Homo sapiens: one gene and its partner. The protein of the gene in region 1 purifies or fractionates together with the protein of each later gene. This does not show direct contact. Each region holds a gene or a part of one and is shown in the gene's direction. Other genes may lie near its edges.

Region 1 (12,817 bases):
TCTATACCTAAAAATCATCTCTGCACCTTGCTTTGTTTGTTTTCTTTCCCCACTCATAGTACTGCAGGAATCTATTCTCATTTACACAGACCTTTTTTTAGGCTTACTATGAACATTGGCTGTATTTTTTTTAAACAGTTTAGTGAAATTTTCTTTTCAAAACCCACACTTCCATATGCTGTTCGTAGATCTCTTTCTTTAAAAACTGATGTTGAGAGATCTCTGAGAATATTATAAGTGCATGGGAAATGGGCCCAACCACCGAACAGCTCTTACATTACAAAACCAAATGCAAGGGTTAGTCCTGCTACCTGAGGCTGGGGAAGTGACCTTCCTTTTCCCAAGATTGTCAGTTGTTGAAGAAATAGGGCTATCTCATTGTTTACCTCCCTCTTCTCTTCTCAGGGAGACTGCTGCTTTAAAAGAAGGAAGAGAAAAAATATAGTTCTATTTCCCTGAACCTGTTGCACCTGACATTTTCTCTTAGCAGCATGAAACTTATTGATGCTGACAATGAAAAATGGATCTGTCTGGCTGCTTTCCCTCTTTCCTTGCACTTTAATTATGTTGCTAGAGCTAACAGACTAATAAATTCCACCTGCTGGCTCTTAAGACTCAGTGAAAGAGCTAGCATTGGTAATGCACCATAGAGGTAGAGAATGTACACTTTCTGCACGGTAAGTGCCATCTCTGTATGTAACTATATAGTGAAATATCAACTAAGTAAAAGAAAATATAATATTTGAAGACCATTCCCAAAATATTTTCAATAGTTCATATTAGCCAACAGTGTAGCACTCAACCCAAGGAGGGTTCCTTATGGATGCTTTCTTTTTCTTTTTTAAAGTTGCTTGTTTGTTCTCTTTAGTTTCAAATAAGAGGTTGACGCATCTTGATGCATGATGAGAAGCATGGGCTGTTTGGATCCTAACAACGCATAACTTGTGATTTATTTCTCAGTGCTCCAGAAACTGAGGGTTTGAAATAATATGTATCAGTTGCACCAAACACCTCAAGGTCTTGCAGAAGAAAAGTAAAGGTTAGCTTTCATGGCTCAAAAGCATAGTCCTGAAGGGTGAACTAAAACCGGGACAAATCTGTGAGAGGACCACACACATACTAGTTTCGGGCCAAACAACACGTGGAAAGGTGCATGCATTCTACTCTGCCTTGGAGTTGCCAGAGTCCTTCAGAGGGAAAGGGATGGTTCTGTGTGCACTTTTTCTGGAAGTTCGGACTCATTTCTTTGACCCAAATGTTCCAGAGACACTGCAGCCATTCTTATTAACAAAAAATAAGACAGGAGTTTCCAAATGCTCCTTCCCTTTTGGATCGCAGCTTTTCTTCAACTAGTGACAAAGCTTTTGCGCCTATTTCCTGCAGGATGTTGGAACTGCCCCGCACTGGTCATATTAGGCACTGTCAATTGCTATGCTGACTTTTAGGGGGTTTTTGTTTGTTTGAAAAACAGGGTCTCACCATGTTGCCCAGGCTGGTCTCGAACTCCTGGACTCAAGCAATCTTCCTGCCTCAGCCTCTCAAGCAGCTGGGACTGCAGGGGTGTGCCACTCACTAGCCTTTCGCATTTTTGTTTGAGAATTACACCACTTTCTGGAGTCTGCAGCCTTCCTGGAGCTGCAAGAGGGCAAGAGAGAGAGCTCCACCTCTGAGGGAGTGTCTGTTGATGACCTGCACTATTCGTGTGCCAGCTGGGAGAGGAATGCACATTTTAAAATCCCTTCAATTTGGTCAAATTAAAAATCCCCAAGAGCAATTTGCAGTGTTTTTTCTGGTCGTTAAAGTACCCATCCTCTTCTGCCTACACACAAAGCATGCATTCCCAGCTGCATCTGCCTCTAGTCCATTATGGAGACCCATTTCTAAGAGGAGATGGGAGGTCAACCTCTAACAGCCAAGTAGCGAACATGTATACTGTAAAATTAACCTAGAAAATCAGAAGAAAAATCCAATTTCATGCTTTCGAATGAATGCCCACATTTTGTACTGTCAACGAAATTATCTTGGAGCTTTTAGGGGATGCCTTTTCGTTATTAACTGAGACATCTAGTTTTGCTACAGGGACAAATCTCTTACCTAATCCAATATATTATTTGACAGATTCAGGCATGAAGTAAAACGTCGTCACTTTTCCTTAGTGCTTTTCTGAAGGAATTTAAAGACGGAATTTTAAACGGCCATTGCAATATTTTCAAGTGGCTCTCATACCAAGTCCCATTACTGTTTGTTAAATTTCAGTACGTCTTAAAGTACTACTTATAAACAAATGAAACTCAGAGAAACTGAATCACCTGGAAGAGAAAAATCCATTATGGTCCCATGTGGAGTGAATAATGATGGATCAGCACCCTTTCTCTCATGTTATTGTATAAGACGAGACTTTTGGGCCAGCAGCGATTGGGCAGCTTTTAAATTCTTAACTGAAAAGAGTAATGCAATACAGGGATTATTCCCAATAAAATTAACTTTTATTTAAAAGCAAGAGATTTTACTTAGCTTTTTTTTTTCAAAGTTTGATTTTATCCCCTTGAAAAAAAATCTCTTCACTTTAAAGTATAAAGGTTTTTAAAAATCCAATTGCAAAATGTATTATTTTTACAACTATCGAAAAGGCATAAAAGAGAACATACTATTTATGGCTGAAGGGTATAGCCAGGCTAATGTGCACAGAGGGAATCAATAAATAAAACTCTTTTTCATTTCAGTAAGAAATCAGATTGTAAGTTTAATGGCTCCATTATAGATACCACCGTGTAATAGAAGACTTAAGTCAATGAAATCTAATCAGTGTGTCATTTCTCAGCGGCCATTGGTGACTTAAAATTAAGATGAGGCAGAGCCAAAATGGAAAACAGTCATTTTGTTGTAGGTATAAACACATGAACGATTCAGAAAATTATTCATCTCAGCTGCCATGCAGCATGACATTAACATTAGGATTGATAGCACTAGTCTGATCTGCTCAAGGAAAATAATAGTTCTATTATACTTAATGATGTTGGTTTTTACACAGCTCATTTCATTTTTCACTAGAAAGCCAGTTATGAAAGAGAGCTGGCCTAGGCATCCCGGCCCTGAGTCCTAGGCCCAGTCTCCAACTGGAAAACCTTAGGCTGGTGTTTACACATCCCTGAGCCTCAGTTTCCTCATCTGCAAAACGGTGTGAATAGTAATCCCTGTGCTGCTTATCTCACAGGGCTATTGTGAGGACCAAATGGATTAGACTGTAAACTGCAAAGTGCTGTCCGCACATGAGGTCATCTGATTACTGTCCTCAGATCTCTTTTGTAGAGGATTTCAATGTATTTCTTTATCATTTGAGTGTGTGTGTGATGGACGAATATGTGTGTGAGTTTGAGAAGCATATCGTTCGTGTCCAGTTACTTTGCAAATTTGTGGACATTTGTGATTGGACAGAGGGGTTTGTGCTGTGGCCTAACACTTGCCAAGTGAGGTGTAGGTTATGCCTATATGCAAATTAAACTTCACCTTTCTTGAATATTCAGAAATCTCACTGGTTTCTTCATTTAACTCTTTTTCCCCCCATTTTTCTACATTGTCAACTTAAAACCATGAAATGTATACATTTAGAAAAAATAGAACTTAATTTCTTATAAAGGGTTACAATCTGCAGGCTGGAGCCTCTGGCCAAAGCCAAAAGCAAGCACTTCAGATAAAAAAGGGAGAGGCTGAGATTTATGCCCAACAAGATGAGCCTTACATATACATTTAGTAGGTTATAGGATAATCTTATGAATATTTATGAGAGGCCCTAATGCATGCATAGCCAGTAATCATATATGTTACATGTTACATACAACCCATGTTCACTTTGGGATGGAGACTTAAAATGTAGTAAAATTGGGCTCTATATGTCAAAAGATGGAACACAGGGCACAAAGACGCTTGGTGTGCAATCTCTGTAAACCGGCCAGAACCGGCTGTGGTCTGTGGTCAGTTATGAGGATGGAGTGCTTTGTAAGGCTGAACACTTGTCAGGGGGAAACTGCGTTGAGGGAAGGGGGGGTTCGCCACGTCAGGTTGTCTGTTGAAGTTGAGGAAGAAATCTTCCAGACATAGTTTTTCAGTAACTGGTTTTAGTTTAATTTTAGGAAAGAAAGTCTTGAGGCAGTTATCGAGGTGGGAGAGCGTTGGGTGTGACTGACCTCTTGCCTTGCCAAAGCTGTAGAATCTGGTTTTTAATGTTTCCTGGGGTCTCTTTTTACCACAATGAGTCTGTTTTGTTTTGCTTGGGGGCCTAGGGGCTTTATTTTTATTTTACATCTTCTTCATAGCAGTGAACTCCTTCAGATATATTATTTACTTCTAAATATTACTTCTAAAGTTCAGGGAGAAAAACAGTTTAGAAGAGGCCCTAAAATTCAAAGAATTTGGGGAAAGCTTTGAAATGATACGAAGGATCAACTAATCACACTTTCTTTGCAGTGCTTAGATTCTTCCTGTGACATCCCCAGCCTATATTTGATACCTCCAGGCACAGAGAACTCACTACTACCTGGAACAGCTCAGTCCATTGCACAGCAGCTCAACGCTCCTGAATGGGTGGTGGAGAGAGGAGAAGCCGCCAGGGTAGAGTCCTGGCCTAATAGTCACCAGGCTCCACCTAGGAGGGGCTTCTGAAATAAGACTCCTGTCTACCCCTAAAATAACTGCAGTGGTTATATGGATTACTATATATGAAAATACTTTAACTTCTATGAAGTTGTGGCAACATTTAGAGCTGATGGAATTAAGTTACAGTTGCTGGACACAAGAATAGACTAAGGAAAGGGGTCCCTCCTGCCCAATTCTGAAATGAGCAATCCAGGCTGGTGCGACAGAGGAACCCAGGTTCCTTTCATCCTATTACTTGCTCATCCCACAAGGCGTCATCCTTGCCTTCGAGGTCAAATCTGGGGCCTGCTCTAGCCACACTCCTGCTGGACTCAGGAACAGAAAAGAGAATAAGTCCAGGACATTTTCCTTTAAAGCAAATGATATGGCAGTCGCACACTTCAATTCTGTTCCTGCCCTTATGGCAGAAGCCAGCCACAGGGCAGCCTGGTGTGGCTAGAGCCCCAGAGCTTCAAAAGGAGTTGGTAACGATGAGAAGGGAATAGATGCCATGTGACAGGGATGGCATTTGAAAGATTTCCAGAAAGCCAGAATTTCTACTGTGAGTCCCTTGTAGAGATTTCATCCCCATCACACCACCTTTATAATAAGCTTGAAGAGGACCAGTCCCCCAAAAGAAGGGTGGTACCCTCTTTTCTCAACAATGACCCAATTTTTCTTCTGACCTTACTAACATAAACATTTACTCTATAAAATATAAGGTGTTGAGGTCGGGTGAGTGGAGGGGGCCCTAAATGTTGATTAGGCAATTGGGGAGGAAAAGGAGGTTTTTGCTATAACTGCCATTCTTTAAATCTACAATTCCATGCTCTTTAAAAGCCTTATAATTTTCTGGATCTGGGAGCTGGGCTATTTCAGGGTCAATGGATTTATTTCAGTTGGTGCCTGAACTGACTTGAAACAAGTGTGTGTGGAAAAGAGCTATTTTGAGAAGGAATAAACCGAGACTGCCCTGATGATAGAATATGCAAGCTGGTGGGTCTTGACTCCTTAAAGGATTATGAAATTAATTTGATTGGTCCCAATCTTTATATAACCACCCCAATCAGGAAACTTCCCATCCCGCCAAAAGGCCCCCTCACGTGCTCTCCCTGTCAGTACCCCATGCAAAGGTAAAATAGATGATATTTTTAAACATGGGTCGTGTTTAAAAGAAATGGAAACTCCTTCAGAGAATGAAGGAGAACCACACTGGGTAGAAGGTTATTCCTGGGGCTCCACCCCTTGCTCCATCAAGTCCTCTGAGCATGAGCTGGGCTCTGAGAAGGAAGAGACAGGAACCAATTGGTCATGTCCACGTGGCCTCAGAAGCTGAGTACGTGACGGTCACCAGATGCCTAGGCAGGCTCCCTTGAAATGGCAGGGCTGCTGTCCAAAATCCTGCTGGGTCATTGCTATTTACAGGCAGCCTTCCCGGCGTGCGGTGGATATCCCAAGCGGGGCTATTTTTAAGCAGGGCTATGGCCTGCCGTGGGTTAAGCTGGTGTGGACAGAAAGCGAGATGATCTAGCCATCTACTGCAGGGGGCCTGATCTTGAACAGAAACCTGACTGTAATTGTCCCTGGATCCAGGTCCCAGACAAAGACGCTGGAAGGAGGTCCCTCCAGCCCCTGGCTCAGGGCCCGGTCAGCTGCTGGAGCCAGGCAGCTTGAGACATCCTCCTCTCCGACCTTGGCTTGAGGGGTTCATCCTCCAGAGCTCACCAGGGCCCCAAGGCTGGTACACCTGAGAGAAGAGAGAAACAAATCCCCCAACAGATGTGCAATTTCACCTGCTGGCCCTTCCATTCTGAGATCCAGAGCCCTGGCAAAGGAGCCTCCAGGACCAGGCCTGGGAAGCAAGACTGGCTCCGCCTTTTACGTTTCAGAGAAAGGGCAGGTGCTATAAAGGGCCCAGCGCCCACGGGCCTGCCTTCAAGGGTACAGCTGTGGGGGCCGGTGCGCCCGGAGGTCTACGCTGGGATTGGTGAGGTCCTCTGGCCCCGCCCCGCCAGGGAGGATTTCCAGGCCGGCCCGACCAGCTCGCCCTGCATACACTTCTTGGCTGTGTGCGCTCAGCAGGACGTGGGAGGCTCCGGCTTCAAGGTCGGTGAGTCCGTGAAACTCTGCTTTATTCCTCCAAAGAGGGGTCATGGCTAGAGCCAGTGTGAAGGGCCTTGGAGGAGTGGATGCCGGGCTGTAGACGGGGACCCCGTTAGGACGCTGACTGCGAGGAGGCAATGGTGACTCGCTAAAGCCAGCAGAGCTCCCGCCCTTGGCCGAAGCGACCCCTCCTCCCTGCACACAGGTGGGGGCAGCTCAGCACCAGGAGCAGAACAAATCAGCACGCTGCCTGCAGGGCCTCTTTTTGGTAGTGAATCAGGAATTTTTCTCGATGGAAAAAAAAATCTAAAGGCTGTATTTTGACGCTAAGTTTGGGACAACTTTAAACTTAAAGTGTCTTTCCCTTGTAATTCACAGAGTCTAATCCACTCATTTCTGGGAATGTTTTTCCCCAGCAGTCTCAGTCTCAAAAGACATGTAAATCAGTGACTTGGGATGAACTAACTAGAAAATTAAAATTTTGAGAAGCTATTTGCTCATAAGCCCAATAGCCAGGCCCAGTTTAAACGGGCAAATAGTATTGCTAGAGATTCAGTTTTGCCGTCACTAATACTAACACATTGATAATGAGACAAGTAACCGTCTCCCCTCCCCACCATCCTTACCTTTCCCACCGGAGGTTAATTAAAAAAAAAAAAAAAAAAAAAAAAACCTATGGAATTGGCCCCACGTGTTTCACCTGGGCAGAGGCCTGTTCTTCACTAGCTTGCTTGCTTGGTTGGTTGTCCCGGGGTTAAAATCAGTCCTGTTCTTGCCCCTAGAGTGGTCTGCCTTCAAATGCTCTCCTCCGAATGTGAGGAAGAGTGACATTTGACAAACAGACCAAAACCTTTAGGTCTCCTCAGTGCTGCCCTTTAGACCTTCCAGAAAGTGTTGCCAGGCTCGTGACCCCTCACAGTGTCAGCTGAGTCAAGTGAGGGGCAGTTAGTGGCCCTCAGGACAAGGTTACGCTAGGTACACCAGTGTGCTGTTTCCAGAAGGGCTGCTTTTCCTGTCTACGGCTCTCACATTTTCTCTGTTCTGAACTCGTGTCCTTGGTCTGTTCTCTCTGTCCTCTCATAGAGGCGAGCATGGCCACAGCATGTGGCCAGAGACTTCCTGACAGGCAGGCTCTTCCGGGAGGCTCTTGGCCTTGTTTGGCGGTCTGAGCACTTCACTTCCTCTGCATTGATAGGCACCTTTTCCAAAGACCCCAGACTTTGGAGTTAATCACGCCTGTGGGTTAAGGCACTGTCACAGCAAAGCACAGGAGTGCCACATGCACCCCATGGACTCTGCCAGCCTCATGACCAAATCATATCATTAGGAAATGGGCCATAGGCAGGTCAGTTTTCCTAAGGAAACTGTGGGTTGGGTCGGGGGGAGTACCATACAGAATGGGGAGTCCTGGGGTTTCAGACACAGGAGGGAGACTGACTTTGCCCCTAGCTCAGAGGCCCTGGGCCTCCATCTCTGCCATAGCCTACAGCAGGCTCCATTTGTCTTCCCAAAGGAAGCCACGTAGAGTCTGTGTCAAGCATTCTGGGAGCTCCTGCCCACAGAGCCAGGAATCCAGCAGCAACCCATGCTGAAGGTGACTGCTGGAGGTCACACTAACCCTTGCCAGGAAGCCTCAGAGACTCCCTCCCTTGGGCGGGGAAGAAGGCAGCCCACTTCACAGCACTTCAAAGGACTAGATGGCTCCTAGCTTCCTGTTTTCTTGAAAACAATTTACCCTTGAGGGACAAAGTCTGGTAACGGTCCCATGCCTTCATCACAGGAGGCCTAGGAAAGGCCTCTGTTTTACAGAGTAGGATTCTAAATATCTCCTTCCTGCCTAGGACTGTCTATTTGCTGAGTAGAACAGTAATGCCAAGAGTGCCCATTAAGGTTGGCTGCGTACTAAGTGGTTTTGAGGTAACGCACACCCTTTGCTATCTTAGAACTGGGAGGAGACAGGCATTTTCTGCGGCCTAGGAGCCTGGCATCGTGAGAATTTGTTCAGAGTGTTCTGTGGAGCTGGTCCAAGCCCAAGGACATCCTCTGTTTTGGGGTGGCTCTCTGGATGGAAAGCTGACACGTGGTCCTCCTCCTGCCCTTCCACCTGCCCTCTGGCTGAGGAGTTCAGACACATGGACGCTGTGAATGGCTGGACCAGAAATAAATCTGAGTCAGCAGAAAGGCAGACATGGTCCATCCGGGATGCCCAGGAAGAGCAGGGGGCTCGGGCTGGAGGCAGTGACAGAACCCAAGGCCTCCTCTTCACATTCTAGGATGTCACAGAACCAGAGAAGAGCATTAAGACCAGGATCTGAACTCCCAGTATACCTGCCTGGGACCAAGAAATGTACAGCTTGTGGCCACTTAACAAAAGGGCTTGATGTAGCTGTCGTTGTTTTTTTAATGCGGAGGGCAGTGTAGGAACAAACAGGATATTATTGCTTTTGGCTCTGTCTGGCTGTGCTCTTGCACCTCCCCATCGCTCCAAATCTCCCTGGCTTGGAGCCCAGGTATTCTGCCAATTTTAGCCTAGATGCTGTAAGCAGTGTTTTTCAATTCAGGAGTCATTGTGGTGTTCCAGGTTAGGGAAACTGAGGCAGAAAGCTTCTATGGGGTGAGAGCTGGAGACCACCTTCCTCTTCACACTGGCACAGCATCCCTAGCAAGGCCTGGCAGGCACATTGAGCACTAGAGTCAGAGTGGAGCGGGCAGAGATATCCCTGGCGTCTGGGTTACTTCAGCGGGAGCCTGAGGACAGGGAAAGAGAACAAGTTTATAATCTGCAACTTTAGAAGTCATATGCCCTGAGGTGACAATCCTGTGCCTAGGAGCTGCTGTGTTAAATGCACTTCTACGGTCTTGGGGGTTTGACTGAGTGGAATGATCTGTGGCACCACAGGTTTTAAGCCACAGGGGTGGTTTCCCTCCAATTGCTGGTCAGTGAAGGGCTGTATGTGAGGTGCTGCGGTCTGCAAGGAAGCTGAATCCAGTGCAAAAGACAAACCTGGGTTCAAATCCCAGCTCTACTAGTGTGCTGGCACTGAAACCTGGGGCAGGTCACTTCTCTTGAGCCTCTGTTTCCCCATGCCCAAAATAAAGCATACTTGGCAGGATTGTTACATAGACTGATTGTGTTTGTAAGGTCCCTTACATAATGCATGGCTCATGATAGGAGCTCATAAATGCTCAAAAAGAAGACAGAAGGTTTGACTCAGTCGGTGTATAGGGTTGGAAAGGATATTCCAGGGGAAAGAAAACACTCAAGCAAAGGCTCAGAGGTGGCAAAGTGAAGGACCTGTTCAGTGATGCCAGGAAGTCATTGGAGACACTGTTGGAGGGGTGGAGTCTGGAAGAAGAACTGGGGAGCCCAATTGGTTAAATCCATTTTGTGAACCCCGATGTTGGTTTTCAGAGGATGATCAGTAGATCTGAAAGTATGTGATAGACACCTTTGAAGTCTTGTCCGCAGAGATAGAAAATACAAATTAAAAGAAGGCAGCTGTGGTGGTTCACACCTCTAATCCCAGCACTTTGGGAGGCTGAGGCAGGTGGATCACTTGAGGTCAGGAGTTCGAGACCAGCCCGGCCAACATGGCAAAATCCCATCTCTACTAAAAGTACAAAATTAGCCACATGTGGTGGTGGGCGCCTGTAATCCCAGCTACTTGGGAGGCTGAGGCAGGAGAATTGCTTGAACCCAGGAGGTGGAGACTGCAGTGAGCTGAGATCGCACCACTGCACTCCAGCCTGGGTGACAGAGCGAGACTCTTTCTCAAATTAAATGAAACATTTAAATGCGAAAAATGTAAGTTAAAATCAAAAAGCATTCAGAAAAGGGGCAGGCCGAGTGCTGGCTGGAATAATCAGGTGTGGCTTTGGGGAGGGAGTGATGATGATCCCATAGCCTTAGGGTCATCAGGGGAAGGGACTCATTTATTCAGTGCCTACTGCAGCCTGTCCCGTCGTCTTCACAACACCTCACAGGGAGACCTCATCATGCCCATGATGGGGAGGAGCTGCTGAGGCTCGGGTGGGTACCAAGCAGGGTTCCTACACCTAGCGGGGCTTGGTAACATCCTGTAATCGGGGAGCTTTTTCTCATTATACATGTGAGGGCCCCACTCTTGGAGAGACTCATTCAAAAAAGGTGGAGCCTAGAAATCCAAAATTTTAACACACATCAAAATTTTCTTTTTTAGGTTTTTACTTTTTTATCATAAAGATAACACATGCTTATTTTTACAAGTGATACAATACAGAGTTCCATTAAGAGAAAATTAATCTGCCTTCTCCGAGTCCGTTACTCTGAAGCAACCCTTTTAGCAGTTTGATGAATATCCTTCAATACTTTTATGTTCATACAAATACATGAAAATGTATATGTATATATACATCATTGTTACAAATTGCAACCGCTCATATTCAGTCCTAAGCAAGTTTTTCTTTTCCTTTTAACCTAAAAAGGTGTCACAGATGGGCCTCCAGGTAAGTGGAGGCAGTTTTAACTCCTTTAATAGCTGCAGAATATTTCACCATCTGAATGCACCAGCATTTGTTGAGTGGCAGTGCTGGGCTTCTCAAACTATCTGTGGCAAAATCTCTTATTAATTTCTAATCCATAGCAGACTCACACATTTGTAAAATATGATAAAGTGCAACTATTAGAAAAAGAGAATAAGGCTGGGCGTGGTGGCTCACACCTGTAATCCCAGCATTTTGGGAGGCCAAGGCGGGCAGATCACGAGATCAGGAGATTGAGACCATCCTGGCTAACATGGTGAAACCCCGTCTCTATTAAAAATACAAAAAATTAGCTGGGCGAGGCGGCAGGCGCCTGCAGTCCCAGCTACTTGGGAGGATGAGGCAGGAGAATGGCGTGAACCCGGGAGGCGGAGCTTGCAGTGAGCAGAGATCGCGCCACTGCACTCCAGCCTGGGCGACAGAGCGAGACTGTCTCAAAAAAAATAAAAAAACAAAAACAAAAAAAAACCAGGCATATAAAATGCCAGCTCAAAATTTAAAAAGTAAAATGACTATCAAAGTGCTGTAGGTGTTCTAAATGCTTAATCTCAATTCCTGTACTTACATCGTCACGAACTGCTAACAGCCCACAGACCACACTTTGGCAGCATTGGTCTGGGGTCAGCCTTCCCTAAGTTGAAAAAATCACTCTTCTGTGAAGACCTTGTCACTTTTCACCACCTCCAAATTCAAGTCCCAGGTCTCACAGTTTGTTCCTTTGGCTATGGCTCCAGTGCCACGTGCTTTGGCTCCAACCTGTCTCTGCAGTCCCTCCCCTGCCTCTGCCACTCATGGCTCCTGCCTCTGCACATTCTGTCCACTGTATCTGGAAAGTCCTCCCTTTATCCACCAGGCAAGGTGAAGTGATAGCCCCGAAGATTTTTTACCTCTTCTAGAAAGCCCTCTCTGACCCACCAGGCAAATTTGGGTCTTCTCTCCTCTTTACTATTTTTGCTCTTGTCCTTTGGATTATAGTGGTAGGTTTTTATAGTGATCTGTCTCCCCCACCTGGCTGTACCCTGAACTCTATAAAAGCTCCTTGAGGGCAGCCCCAGTATCTGACACAAGGATTGATTCTCTAACGTTTGTTGAGCAGATGGAGGGATGGATGAGCAGATGGATGGATAGATGGACAAACGGATGGATGAAAGAGCTTCCAGGCTTAGCTCTCAGGCTGTAACGTAATCTTTGCTGTACACAGGCCGTGAACTGGGTGGTTGGCCTTGCCCATGTTCAAATCCATTTCTGTTCTAGACTCCAGAATCTGTCAGGGCTGTCTTGAACCGTGGGTTTCCTTGAGGCCCTCTAGGGTACGTAGCCACCACAAATTCCAGCCAGAATCAGTCCTAGCTTAATTCAACTCTCCAAATTTCAGGGGAATTATCTTCCGTAGAGTCCCTCCAGAGGCAAATTTGTATTAGTGACAGTGGCCCAGGATGCTGTGTCCTCATCTTAGGAATCTGGACTAGGAATAGAACAGGGGACACATTTAGCCCTTTCTTTTTTTTGGCAGCATTCAAGGGCAGGCTAAGTCTGCTCTGGGCTGAGGGGAATGGCCATT
Region 2 (12,433 bases), on another chromosome or scaffold:
TGAGGTCAAAGTCCTTGTATAAATTTGAGATGGATTTTAGTTTTACAGGGACTCACGTTTTTCTTCTGGGCAGGAGCATAGGCATACTGTGACAGGCTTAACAAACCCTGAACTGAAATGACTTTATGTTAGAAGGGGAAGCCTCATATCCTGCTGATGGGAACATACAGTAGGGCAGCCACTTTGGAAAACAGTCTCAAAATAAACATTGTGTTACCATATCATACAGCAATTCTTTTAGGTGCATATTCAGGAGAATTGAAAACATATATCTGCTCAAAAACTTGTATATGAATGTTTATAGCAGCATTATTCATAATAGGCAAGAAGTAGAAATGACACAAATTTTTATCAGCTGATGAATGAATACATAAAATGTGGCTTATCCATACAATGGAATTATTTGGCCAAAAAAAAAAAAAAAAGGAATGAAGTACTGATGCACGCTACAACATGGATGAAACTTTGAAACATGCTAAATAAAAGAAGCCAGTTGCAAAGTACCACATACTGTATGGTTTCATTTATATGAAATGTCCAGAATAGGCAAATCCATAGAGACAGAAAGTAGATCCATGGCTGCCAGGGGCTGAGGGAAGTAGAACTGTGGAGTGACTGCTAATGGGCACAGAGTTTCTTTTTGGGGTGATGAAAATGTTCTAAAATTGATTGTGGTGTTGGTTGCATAGCTCTGAATATACTGAAAACTGCTGAATTGTACACATTAAATGGGTGTATTGTATGGTATGTGAATTATATCTCAATACAGCTGCTTGCTAGCTAGCTAGCTAGAGATATTCACATTGTCAGCCCCTCACTACGTGTACCAGGACAACACTCTGTACTTCTCAAAGACACAAGCTGTCTCTGCTCTGTAAACACTACATTCTGCAGAGGTGCAAATTCAGATAGCCTTGTTATTCTCTTGGAGAAGTACGTACTTCTTTATTTGCCCCAAATAGAAAGAGTAATGGTCCCATGATGAATGAGCAGAAAGTAAGACCATTTGTGGCTACACTTGATAAATGCGTCATTTTTATGAAATCTGGACAGTTACAAATTAGGATGCAATCTACCTGCCTGGACTGTTTAGCCTGTCGACAATAATAATCTTAGGGAGCTCTAAGAGAGGTTGGGGAATGTGGCAGCTGTATTTCTTAGCAGCTGAGCACTTGGAAAAAAAAGTGGATTAATCATCATACATATGGTGATCCATCAAGATACATTTGCAAATCTATTGAAAACTGATTTTCAAAACCTTTCTCAATTTGTGGCTCTTTGTTCTCATTCAAGATTTTGTGTGAATGGTATTTGGCATTATCAGCACCAACAGGGTGGAATTAGTTGTCCTTTTAATTCTAATTTGGAGATCAATCTTTCCATGTCTGCAGTCCGAATTTTAGCTTCCAAGCCCTAGAATCAGCAGTATTATTCCAGAAATAATTAGGAGCCTCAGAGAATGCCGTGAGGACATTGAGTATCTATTAAGCGTGAGGTTTTGACGGTACGAAAAGCCATTTCACTTAAGATGTACCTTGTCTCAAGCACCTTTAGTGACCCCAGAAGGAAAGCATTGGATGGGCGGTATGTAGATGGGCTCATTTGTCTTCCTTTTATGTACTAAATGCTTAATGAATCCATCTGGAAGAATGGTAATTTGCTTACTAATACAGATTTTCCAGGGCACTGATGGCTTCAGGTGGCAGACAGACGGGCCTCATGTGTTAAGTACAAAGTGTTAAGCCAACATGTGTTAAATACAAAGGATACTTCATAGCCTTTCAGTTTGCAAGGTATAGATAGTTAAGTATCCTCCTTCTCCAGGTCTTCTCAGTTTTTAGGAGCTATTAGCTTCCGTGCAAGGCATAACTGGCACCAGACCTTTCTACCTTGTTTGTATGTAGTGTGTTTGGCGAAGCAGGTGGAGCTGGAGCTGAAGCAGGTTCAGGCACGCCTCCCTCACATTTCTACTGGAAATCAGATGAAGCTTGAGATGAGAAAAAAATCAGATCTATGCCTCATTCAGTTATATTCAATTAAGAGAGAGGAAAGCATTTAATGGGTTGGGATTGGGTTTTCAGGCTTCTTTCCTAAGAATTTGTTTTCCTTCTATGTGGTTGTAGAATAAATTTGCTATTTTATTTTATTTTTTTGAGACAGAGTCTCACTGTGTCACCCAGGCTGGAGTGCAGTGGCATGATCTCGGCTCACTGCAACCTCCGCCTCCCGGGTTCAACCGATTCTCCCGCCTCAGCCTCCCGACTAGCTGGGATTATAGGCGTGAGCCACCACACCCAGCTAATTTTTACATTTTTACTAGAGATGGTGTTTCACCATGTTGCAAGGCTGGTCTCGAACTCCTGACCTCAGGTGATCTGCCCACCTCGGCCTCTCAAAGTGCTGGGATTGCAGGTGTGAGCCACCACGCCTGGTGTAAATTTGCTATTTTAAATAGCAATGATGATGAGGTATAATTAAGACTCTCTGTTTAGTGTTAGGGCAGGATAATAATAGTAGCTAGTATGTGTTGAGCCATGGTAAGTACAGGTTGAGCATCCCGTCTCTGAAATCCTTGGGACCAGAAGTGTTTCCAGTTTTTTCAGATGTTGGAATATTTGCATATACATAATGACTTATCTTGTGGATGGTACTCAAGTCTAAACACGAAATGCATTTATGTTTTATATACACCTTACACACATAACCTGAGATAATTTTATATAATATTTTAAATAAGTTTGTGCATGAAACAACGTTTTGACTGCAACCCATCACATGTCAGATGTGGAATTTTCCACTTGTGGCATCATGTTAGCACTCAAGAAGCTTTGGATTTTGGAGCATTTTGGATTTGGGAGTTTTGGGTTAAGGATGCTCAACCTGTATGTTATATATTAGGGCTGCTCAACTTGTAACTTTACAGAGAAGGAAACTGCGGCACTGGGCCTTTCCCGGGACCCACAGGTCAGAAAAGGTGAAGCGGGTCTGAATTAAGAGCTTTCTTTAACCACCTTGGCATGCTGCCTTTGAGGGTAAATAATGTCCCTGTTTCAAGGTGAGACTGAACACTGATTTGTGCTTAATATTAGGACAGGAGATAATCTATAAATAGATATGGTTCTGTTTAGATTTGATTCCAAACCTAATGGTGTATGTAATTACATGATTACTACTATTAATACAGAACACTGTTTGGTGAGATGCCAAAGTCTGTATTTCATGCAGGAAACTAGACTGACAGCTACAGCTTAACACACTAATGTTGGTAATTAGTGAAGCTCTCGCTTAACTAAATGGGCCATTTGCCTTTGAAACCAGTGTGTAAATAGAAATAGAGTAATCTGTCATCCCAATCCACCTCTTTTGTCCTTAGTTTGAGGACTGGCTGTAGTTCTTTCCCAAGCTATCCAGACATTTCAAACAAACTGTGCACAAAAAATATTAATAAAGAAGAGAAATGCTGAATTCCTGATGGGAATTTTGGTTGAGTGAATCCAATGTCTCCCTCCATCCAGGGCCTGTTAGGCTCTTATTGATGGGCAAGGATAAGCCTCTGGGTCTAAGTGCATTAGCAGGATATAACCCATTCCCCTCTTTCCATACAGATGCTGTGTCTGATTGGTCTCCTATGCATGAAGCTGCAATCCACGGACATCAGCTGTCTCTGAGGAACCTCATCAGCCAGGTAGCTTTTTGAAAATACAATACAGAAGAAACCTATCAAAATATTAAAACAAATGTGTGACATAATAACATAGGGACTTTTAAATTAATTCATTAAATAGAAGACCTAGTGGTGATTCTAGTAACTACCATAACGTCTAAATAGGATGAGTATAGATTTTGAGATATTTTAGATGTCTACAGCAATTGTAATACAATAGAAAATATCTGTAATTTCTATTGGAGATAACCCTACATAATACTATTACTACTGTGGTTTGTTGTCTACATTCTGAACTGAAGGAAATGCTAAATTTCAGATAGAGCTGAGTGAGAATAAATGTGCTTTAAAAAATCCAATTTCATAGACCTATCTAGAGTAAGAAGTCCTCCTATAAGAAAATAATTTCTAAAGAAAAATTTCATACTATCCTAAGCCACTATCTTAAGCCATTTTTGGTAGCAGCAGTCTATTATAAATAGATTATAACACTAATTCTAGCTAAAAGAAGTTAGGCTACTTCTCAGATAAAATTAGAAATTTACCCTATTTTGATAGCATGAAAAATGATCACTGCAGCTTTTATATATCACTTCTTAAATTGGACAGATACTCATTTACATTCAGTATTTATGTGTTTATGAAACATCAGCCAGAACCATATCTCCAAGTTCTATCACATTATTTGTGTAAGATGTCTTTTTAGAGCCCCGGTTTCTGCTTTCATAAAATGAGTATTCTAATACCTACCTAGGTCAGTCCACCCCATAACTCAATAACAAACCATCCCAAAACTCAGTGACATGATACAGTAACCATTATTTCTTGCTGATGTGTGTTTGTGTCAGTTCATCTAGGCTGGGCTTGGCTGGGCTTGGCTCCCAGCTGTGGGTTGGGTGTAGCCCTGCTGCACATCTCTTTCATCCTGCTTGGACCACTGGCTACCTGAGGAATTATTTTTTCTTGGCAAAACGCTGGAGCACAGCAGGACAAGCCCCACCATGCAAGAATACTTCCAATCTGTTCATGTCACATCTGCTAACATCCCACTGGTCAAGTCACATGACCACATCCAAAGTCAAGGCTCAAGAGAAGTACATTTTGTCAACTAAGCGTAGTTGACGACTGAAAATAGATATATTAAAGTTAAGCCATTCAATCTTTTTTTAAAAACTAAGAACTGACTGTGGACTGAACACTGTGAAGTAATGGGTTAATTACCTTATGATTTTATATGACTCAGACTTGTTAATAATTTAGACAAATCACAGTTAATTTAAGGTAGAACTGTAGCTTGATGATGAACTACAAATGAGTTTCTAACTTTACAGAAGGAACCTCTCTGCAATGTGAATATGTGGTGAAAACTTTTTGTGTTACGAATAGCTGTGTTGTTGTATTTCATTTACGTGGATTTATGTATAAACACCTAAATGCTGGTTTTATTTTTATCATTATTATTATTATTATTATTATTTTTTTGAGATGGAGTTTCACTCTTGTTGCCATCTGGAGTGCAGTGGCGCGATCTCGGCTCACTGCAACCTCCGCCTCCTGGGTTGAAGCAATTCTGCCTCAGCCTCCCGAGTAGCTGGGACTACAGGCATGTGCCACCACGCCCCGCTAATTTTATATTTTTAGTAGAGACGAGGTTTCACCATGTTGGTCAGGCTGGTCTCAAACTGCTGACCTCAGATAATCCATCAGCCTTAGCCTCCCAAAGTGCTGGGATTATAGGCATGAGCCACCGTGCCTGGTCTAAATGCCGGTTTTACAATGGCAGTTGTGCCTGGAGGAGTATGCACATTTTCCTATTGGTTGTTTTTATGGTTGCCTTTTGCCCAAGTTCTGTACCTCGGCCTGCCTTCCCCCAACTTGTGTCTGATACACTTGCATGATTTTTGCTTCATGTGACAATCATACCCCTCTTGTGGCATTGACAAAGCTACTTTCTATAAGTGTGATGACTGTGAGAAAATAAGATATTTTCTCCTGCCAATTGGACATTTAAGTCTTAGGTATGAATAGTAAAGTAAGAAATGACATATTCTTTTCTTTGATCACGACAAAAGTTGGCACATTTTTTTCTTTCTTTTTTTTTTTTTTTTTTTGAGACGGAGTCTTGCTGTCGCCCAGGCTGGAGTGCAGTGGCGCCATCTCGGCTCACTGCAGGCTCCGCCCCCTGGGGTTCACGCCATTCTCCTGCCTCAGCCTCCCGAGTAGCTGGGACTACAGGTGTCCCCCACCTCGCCCGGCTAATTTTTTGTATTTTTAGTAGAGATGGGGTTTCACCGTGTTAGCCAGGATGGTCTCGATCTCCTGACCTCGTGATCCGCCTGCCTCGGCCTCCCAAAGTGCTGGGATTACAGGCGTGAGCCACTGCACCCGGCCAAGAGTTGGCAAATTTTTTTCAGTAAAGGACCAGATAGTAAATATTTTAGGCTGGGAGGCTGAGGCAGGAGAGTGGCGTGAACCCAGGAGGTGGAGCTTGCAGTGACCCGAGATCGCGCCACTGCACTCCAGCCTCGGCGACAGAGCAAGACATCGTCTCAAAAAAAAAAAAAAAAAAAAAAAAGAATCTTAGGCCTTGCGAACCATGCAGTCTCTGTTGGAAGTACCTAACTCTGCTGTTTAGCAGAAAAGCAGTTGTAGACAATATGTAAATGAATGGGCATGGCTGTGTTCTGATAAAACTTTGCTTATGGATGCTGAAATTTGAATTTCATAAAATTTTCACGTGTCACAAAATATTCCTTTGATTTCTTTTAAACCATTAAAAATGTAGAAACCATTCCTAGCTACAGAAGCAGGTGTAGGCTAGATTTGACTCTGTAGGCTACTGTTTGTTGACCCCCTTGTCAAAACTATGATAGAGCTAGGAAATCTAAGAAAAACAATTAAATGTCAGGAAAAGGAGGGTTTTTTTGAGAAAAAAAATTGGGTGAAACTGATATTTTTATTACAAATATTATTAAATCCTGTGTGTTACTAAATACTTATGTTTAAAGAGCAATTATATTAGTTAATAGGTACATTTCAATTTCCTAAAATAAGAAAGTACATTTAGGCTTCCTAAAAGGTACATGCAGCAGTCTATTTCTTTTCCCTCGCAGTTTGAAAATTTCCTTTTAATTGTCTCACAAGGTAGAGCCACTTGTGAATATGTTAAAACTTAATAATTGCTTGTTAAAACTTAGCAATTTGGGCCACGCTGACTTTAAAAAAATTGAGAAATTTCATAAGCATGAAAGAACTTAAACACGTGTGCAGTTGAATAAAAAGTGATGATGATGAGAATATTGCCATGTGACTGCCTCCCCAGGTCAGGAAATGGAAAAATAGCACAATGCTGGCTCCTCCAAAGACTCACCCATCCCTCCCCTTATTGTGCTTTCTAGAACACAATCCTGTCCCTCTTCCACAGGAGTAACCATTATCCCGATTTCCTTGTTTTCTTTATGGTTTTACTCTATATATTATGTCTTCTGAAACAATATGGGGTAGTTTTGCCTAATTTTGAACTTTAAATTGATGTAATCATTCAGTGTGTATGCTTTTGGATTTTGCTTCTTTTGCTCAACATTATTTTTGCAAGCATCACCCTTGTAGTGCTTGCCATTATGATTTGTTGGGTGTAATCTTTCTGCTGAAAGATTATACCAAAGTTAATTAATTCAGTCCATTGTTGATGGACATTTGGTTTGTTTGCAGTTTTTGACTATTATGACCAATGCTGTTGTGAATATTCTTGTATATTTATCTAGATGTATATATACCTAAGAGTCAAATTGCTGAGTCATAGGCATATGCATTGTCAGCTCTAATAGATACAGTCAAACTGTTTTCCTGAGTGGTTATACCATACCACACTCCCACCAGTAGTGTGGCATTTTTTTTTTTTTAAAGTCAATATAAACACCTTAGTGTAACATCTGACTTTGAGCCAGGTCAGCTTTGTCATAGTACTGGAATGGTGGCTGAAAAGCAGCCCCAGGGCACTGTTGCTTTGCACCCCTTACTCTGACTGTTTCCCCTCCTTCAGGGGTGGGCTGTGAACATCATCACGGCAGATCATGTTTCCCCACTCCATGAAGCCTGTCTTGGAGGTCATCTCTCTTGTGTGAAGATTTTATTAAAGCATGGAGCTCAGGTAAGGGCAGCTGAAACAACATCTTAGAAACCAAGAATGAAAAATGACTATGTATATCCCTTCTGAATAACTTCCAGCACTTTTGATTAGACTGATTTGAAATATGAAGACAGTTGTTTTTCAAGAAAATTATGTTCATCAGGCTTGTTTGCTTTAGTGATGGATGGATGAAATACTAAATTTTTAGTCACGCTTACAGTCTATATCATTTTCTTTATCATACACTACTAATAAATAGTTATTAGACTTCTGTCTTCATTGTTATGGCCGGAAGGTAATGAAATATTGTGGAAAGCACACATTTGCCTGGGATGGCTAGGATGTCTGAGGAGACAGAAAATCTATGTGGTCATTCATCCTTTAGCTGGCAACCTGGACTTGTTCACATGGTAGCAGGGATTGCAAGAGCAGCAAAAATGGACCTGTTTTGTGTTAGGCAACTGAATGGTGGGTTGGGGAAAATTATGGGCTTGCTATCTTCTGGCAACAGCAAATGCAAAGTCCCAGAAATGATAGTGAGCAATTTTTATATCTTGAAGTCATTCCTTACGGCAGGACAGTAGAGTAGGTGAGAGGGTTCAGAACATAAGCAACCTTGTCCATGCCAAAAAAAGAATGGGCTTTGTCCTGAGATCAGTAAAGAGCCAGAGGTGAGTGCACTGCCAGATTTATATTTGGGTTAAGAAAACATTCAAAACTTGGAAACAGGGAACGTGTCAAGGTGAAGCAAGAGACACCTAGGGTACAAACTTGAAAGAAGTGCTCGCTCTCAGGGTCCTGCACTATTTGTGTGACTCCAAAAATGAATATGTCCTTAAATTTTTTACCCTGGGCAACTTTTATGTCTCACTCTGGTCCTGGCCCTGCTTGGAAGTAGAGTTTGAGAAGGAATTCGTTGTCTTCACAATATCATTGCTTAAAAGATTCACCAGATAATCATTTAATGATATACAAGAATGTGTCTGCACTTGGCTTTTCTATTCACTATTTAATTATAGCCCAAACACTGTGAAGTTAGACATTAACTTCGAAATTTCTGTCTGATTTCCAACATTAGAAAAGATAGCCTCAAAGATTATACTTTTATGGCCCTATAGGACATTAACCAGTTTTTATGTTTTTATTTTTTTAATTTTTGAGATGGAGTCTCGCTCTGTCGCCCAGGCTGGAGTACAGTGGCACGAACTCAGCTCCCTGCAACCTCCGCCTCCTGGGTTCGAGTGATACTCCTGCCTCAGCCTCCTGAGTAGCTGGGATTATAGGCACGCACCACCACACTTGGCTCATTTTTGTATTTTTAGTAGAGATGGGGTTTCATCATGTTATCATGTTGCCCAGGTTGGTCTCGAACTTCCGACCTCAGGTGACCCGCCCACCTTGGTCTCCCAAAGTGCTGGGATTACAGGTGTGAGCCACCGTGCCCGGCGGAGTTTTGTATCTATTAGCAAATATATTTCAGCAGTCCATTGACTATATACGTTTTTCTTTTTTCTTTCTTTTTTTGAGACAGAGTCTCACTCTGTCGCCCAGGCTGGAGTGCAGTGGCGTGATCTCGGTTCACTGCAACCTCTGCCTCCCGGGTTCAAGTAATTCTCCTGCCTCAGCCTCCCGAGTAGCTGGGACTACAGGCGCATGCTACCATGCTGGGCTAATTTTTTGTATCTTAGTAGAGACCGGGTTTCACCATGTTGCCCAGGCTGGTCTCGAACTCCTGAGCTCAGGCAATCCGCCTGCCTCGGCCTCCCAAAGTGCTGGGATTATAGGCGTGAGCCACTGCGCCTGGCCAAATGTTTTTTTGAGCCAGCCTTACCATCTTACTGGTTCCCTCATTAATGAGTGAGTTGAATAAAATCTTGGGTATGTGTTAATTCTATATTTGTATGAAAGTCAAGTTTTTTAAAGTTTTCTAAATTATACTTTAAGAATATACTAAATTACACAGCTAATAATTTCAACAATTTCCTCACAGCAGCAAGAGTAATCTTCTTGCACCCGTTAAGAAATTGAATTGGTGTGGGATGGGTCTAGGAAAGAAGTTTAAAATAGGGATTAGTTTGTAAGCGATTGAAATTATCCTAACTAGTTTCAAAGTTCATGTTCCTGGGGAGGGCATGGAGGAGATAGAACATTGAGTAACATTTTCGATGCTTTATAGCCACTCCCTAATTCCATTTTTCACAAAAACCTGTGGAATTTCGTAGTTATTTCTCCATTTTATAGCTGAGGAATTTAAGGCTCAGAGATGTTAAATAACATCTTCAGAGTGGTGGACCCCACATTTGAACCCAAAACATCCCCCTTCCTGTCTTCATTCTGGAGCTTCTTTTACCAGGTGAATGGTGTGACAGCAGACTGGCACACTCCACTGTTTAATGCTTGTGTCAGCGGCAGCTGGGATTGTGTGAATTTGCTTCTGCAGCACGGAGCCAGCGTTCAACCTGAGAGTGATCTGGCATCCCCCATCCATGAAGCTGCTAGGAGAGGTAAATCTGTTGAGAATTTTTTTTTCTACCCACTCCTTCAAGGGACATCTTACTGCTGAAAGAAAGAAAGAAAAGGAGATATATTTTAGAGCAGTAGTTCTCAAAATGGAGTCCCAGGACTGGAAGCATCAGCATGACCTGGCCTGCAAATGCAGATTCTTCGGCCTCACTCCAGCCCCATTGAATCAGTAACTGGGGATGGGGCTCAGCCCTCTGTATTTTGTTTAATAAGCCCTCCAGCTGCTTTCTGGTACACAGTAAGTTTGAGTGCCTCCCTTTTAGAGCATTTTGAATGTTTTTCACTGCTGTATTACTGAAACAGGGCTTGGCACATAGTAGACTATCCATCAATATTTGTGGAATCCGTTGTTATACCCGTGACCTTATAGAAATCAAGTTATTTCATAAAACAAATTATATTCTTCTATTTCAGGGCCTTAAAGAACATTGTCTCAGTGACACTTAAGTTTGCCAAATGAAATAAGCTTTCAATTTTTGAAAGTATTTGATGTTGCATACAGTTTGGGATAATTCTTTTCATTAAAGCCATAATTTTTCTGATAGTCTTAGCTCATAAAATCACAAGTTTTTATTTTCTCCAATATTTAGCATCATCGTAATGACCATACCTTGCCAGAGGGCTTTCTGTTTCTCCAGTGGCTTTCATAGAATGGCTTCCCATTTGACTGGACCAACCCACTCATAATGATCTCCCAAAGCATTAATATTATTTATTGAGAACATCTTAACTCATCATATTCGCTGCATACATAGAACTAAAATACAGCAAGAGAAACGTAGAGGAGCAATGTCAAAAATATGACATCCTGGACCAAGGAAGTGTGATTCAGCTTTCACCTAGTTTTTCAGATTGGGCCCTGCTCATGTTGGATTTGGCAGTTTCTTCTAAGCATTGCCTATACCCGCTGTGGCCTGTTCCTCCCGGGCCTGCCTTTGGAGAGGTTGTAAGTTTCCTTCCCTGTCCCGTGGCCCACACTGTGCCCTTTATTCTTCAGTTCCACCTTCAGGTCCTGTTCCTCCATATCTCTCCCAAGCTCTCACTTCAATTTCTGTACTTAGACAAACTACAAAGCCACAGACAATTGAAAAAGGTGGATAGTTGCTGGTTGGTTACCGTGGCTAGTAAACTCAAATGGAGTTTCACCCGTAGTTGCAGATTGCATCCTATGGTCAAACCATTAACTGATAGCAGTGGTTAAAATCACTCCTGATTTGGCCGGGCCTGGTCTCACGCCTGTAATCCCAGCATTTTGGGAGGCTGAGGCGGGCGGACCACGAGGTCAGGAGATTGAGACCATCCTGGCTAACACGGTGAAACCCCATCTCTACTAAAAATACAAAAAAGTTAGCAGGGTGTGGTGGCGGGCGCCTGTAGTACCAGCTACTCGGAGGCTGAGGCAGGAGAATGGCGTGAACCCAGGAGGCGGAGCTTGCAGTAAGCCGAGATTGCGCCACTGCACTCCAGCCTGGGGGACAGAGCGAGACTCCGTTTCTAAAATAAAATAAAATGAAATAAAATAAAATCACTCCTGATTCTAATTGAAGGAAATAGCTTTTTGGTCCCCTGGATAAGCTGCTGCCAAATTTAATGCAAAATGGGGATGGCAATGTCTTTCTAGCTAAGGGAACTTGTATTGTAACTGTTTTTCTTCCTGCTTTGGGCTGCAGGCCACGTGGAGTGTGTCAACTCTCTTATAGCTTATGGGGGCAACATTGACCATAAGATCAGCCACCTGGGCACTCCACTCTATTTGGCTTGTGAAAACCAACAGAGAGCCTGTGTCAAGAAGCTTCTGGAGTCAGGTAAAGCAAAAAGCAAACCAAAACAAGAAAAGAAAACGAAAAGTAAATTAAATGTATTTTAAACATCTTACTGCTGTAGGAGAGAAATTAGTGTGGGCAATGGAGTTGGACAAGGTCAGGGTTCATATTGACTGTGTTCCCTTGGGGAATTATTTCACACTGTTTGAACTGTAGTTCTCTCATTTGTAACAAGGATGAGGAGGAGGAGGAGGAGGAGGAGGATGATGATGATGATGATGCCTCTTCTCAGGGTGGTCCTCAATGATTATTAGTTTCTCCTCCCTTTCCTCTGTCTCCCTCCATTTGGCCAGT

What was found.
Region 2: the proteins of CKMT2 (region 1) and ASB9 purify together in Homo sapiens (co-immunoprecipitation; 2 studies listed by BioGRID and IntAct, with this or other methods). This does not show direct contact.

The regions. Positions count from the first base shown.
Region 1 is NC_000005.10:81,226,640-81,239,456, forward strand, and holds the start of CKMT2 (creatine kinase S-type, mitochondrial precursor), read left to right. Parts: upstream 1-6,682; 5' UTR 6,683-6,738; exon of another isoform or gene 6,739-6,742; intron 6,743-10,925; exon of another isoform or gene 10,926-12,721; intron 12,722-12,817. UniProt on the Homo sapiens protein: Reversibly catalyzes the transfer of phosphate between ATP and various phosphogens (e.g. creatine phosphate).
Region 2 is NC_000023.11:15,250,118-15,262,550, reverse strand, and holds part of ASB9 (ankyrin repeat and SOCS box protein 9), read left to right. Parts: intron 1-3,605; coding exon 3,606-3,685; intron 3,686-7,706; coding exon 7,707-7,814; intron 7,815-10,146; coding exon 10,147-10,297; intron 10,298-11,986; coding exon 11,987-12,121; intron 12,122-12,433. UniProt on the Homo sapiens protein: Substrate-recognition component of a cullin-5-RING E3 ubiquitin-protein ligase complex (ECS complex, also named CRL5 complex), which mediates the ubiquitination and subsequent proteasomal degradation of target proteins.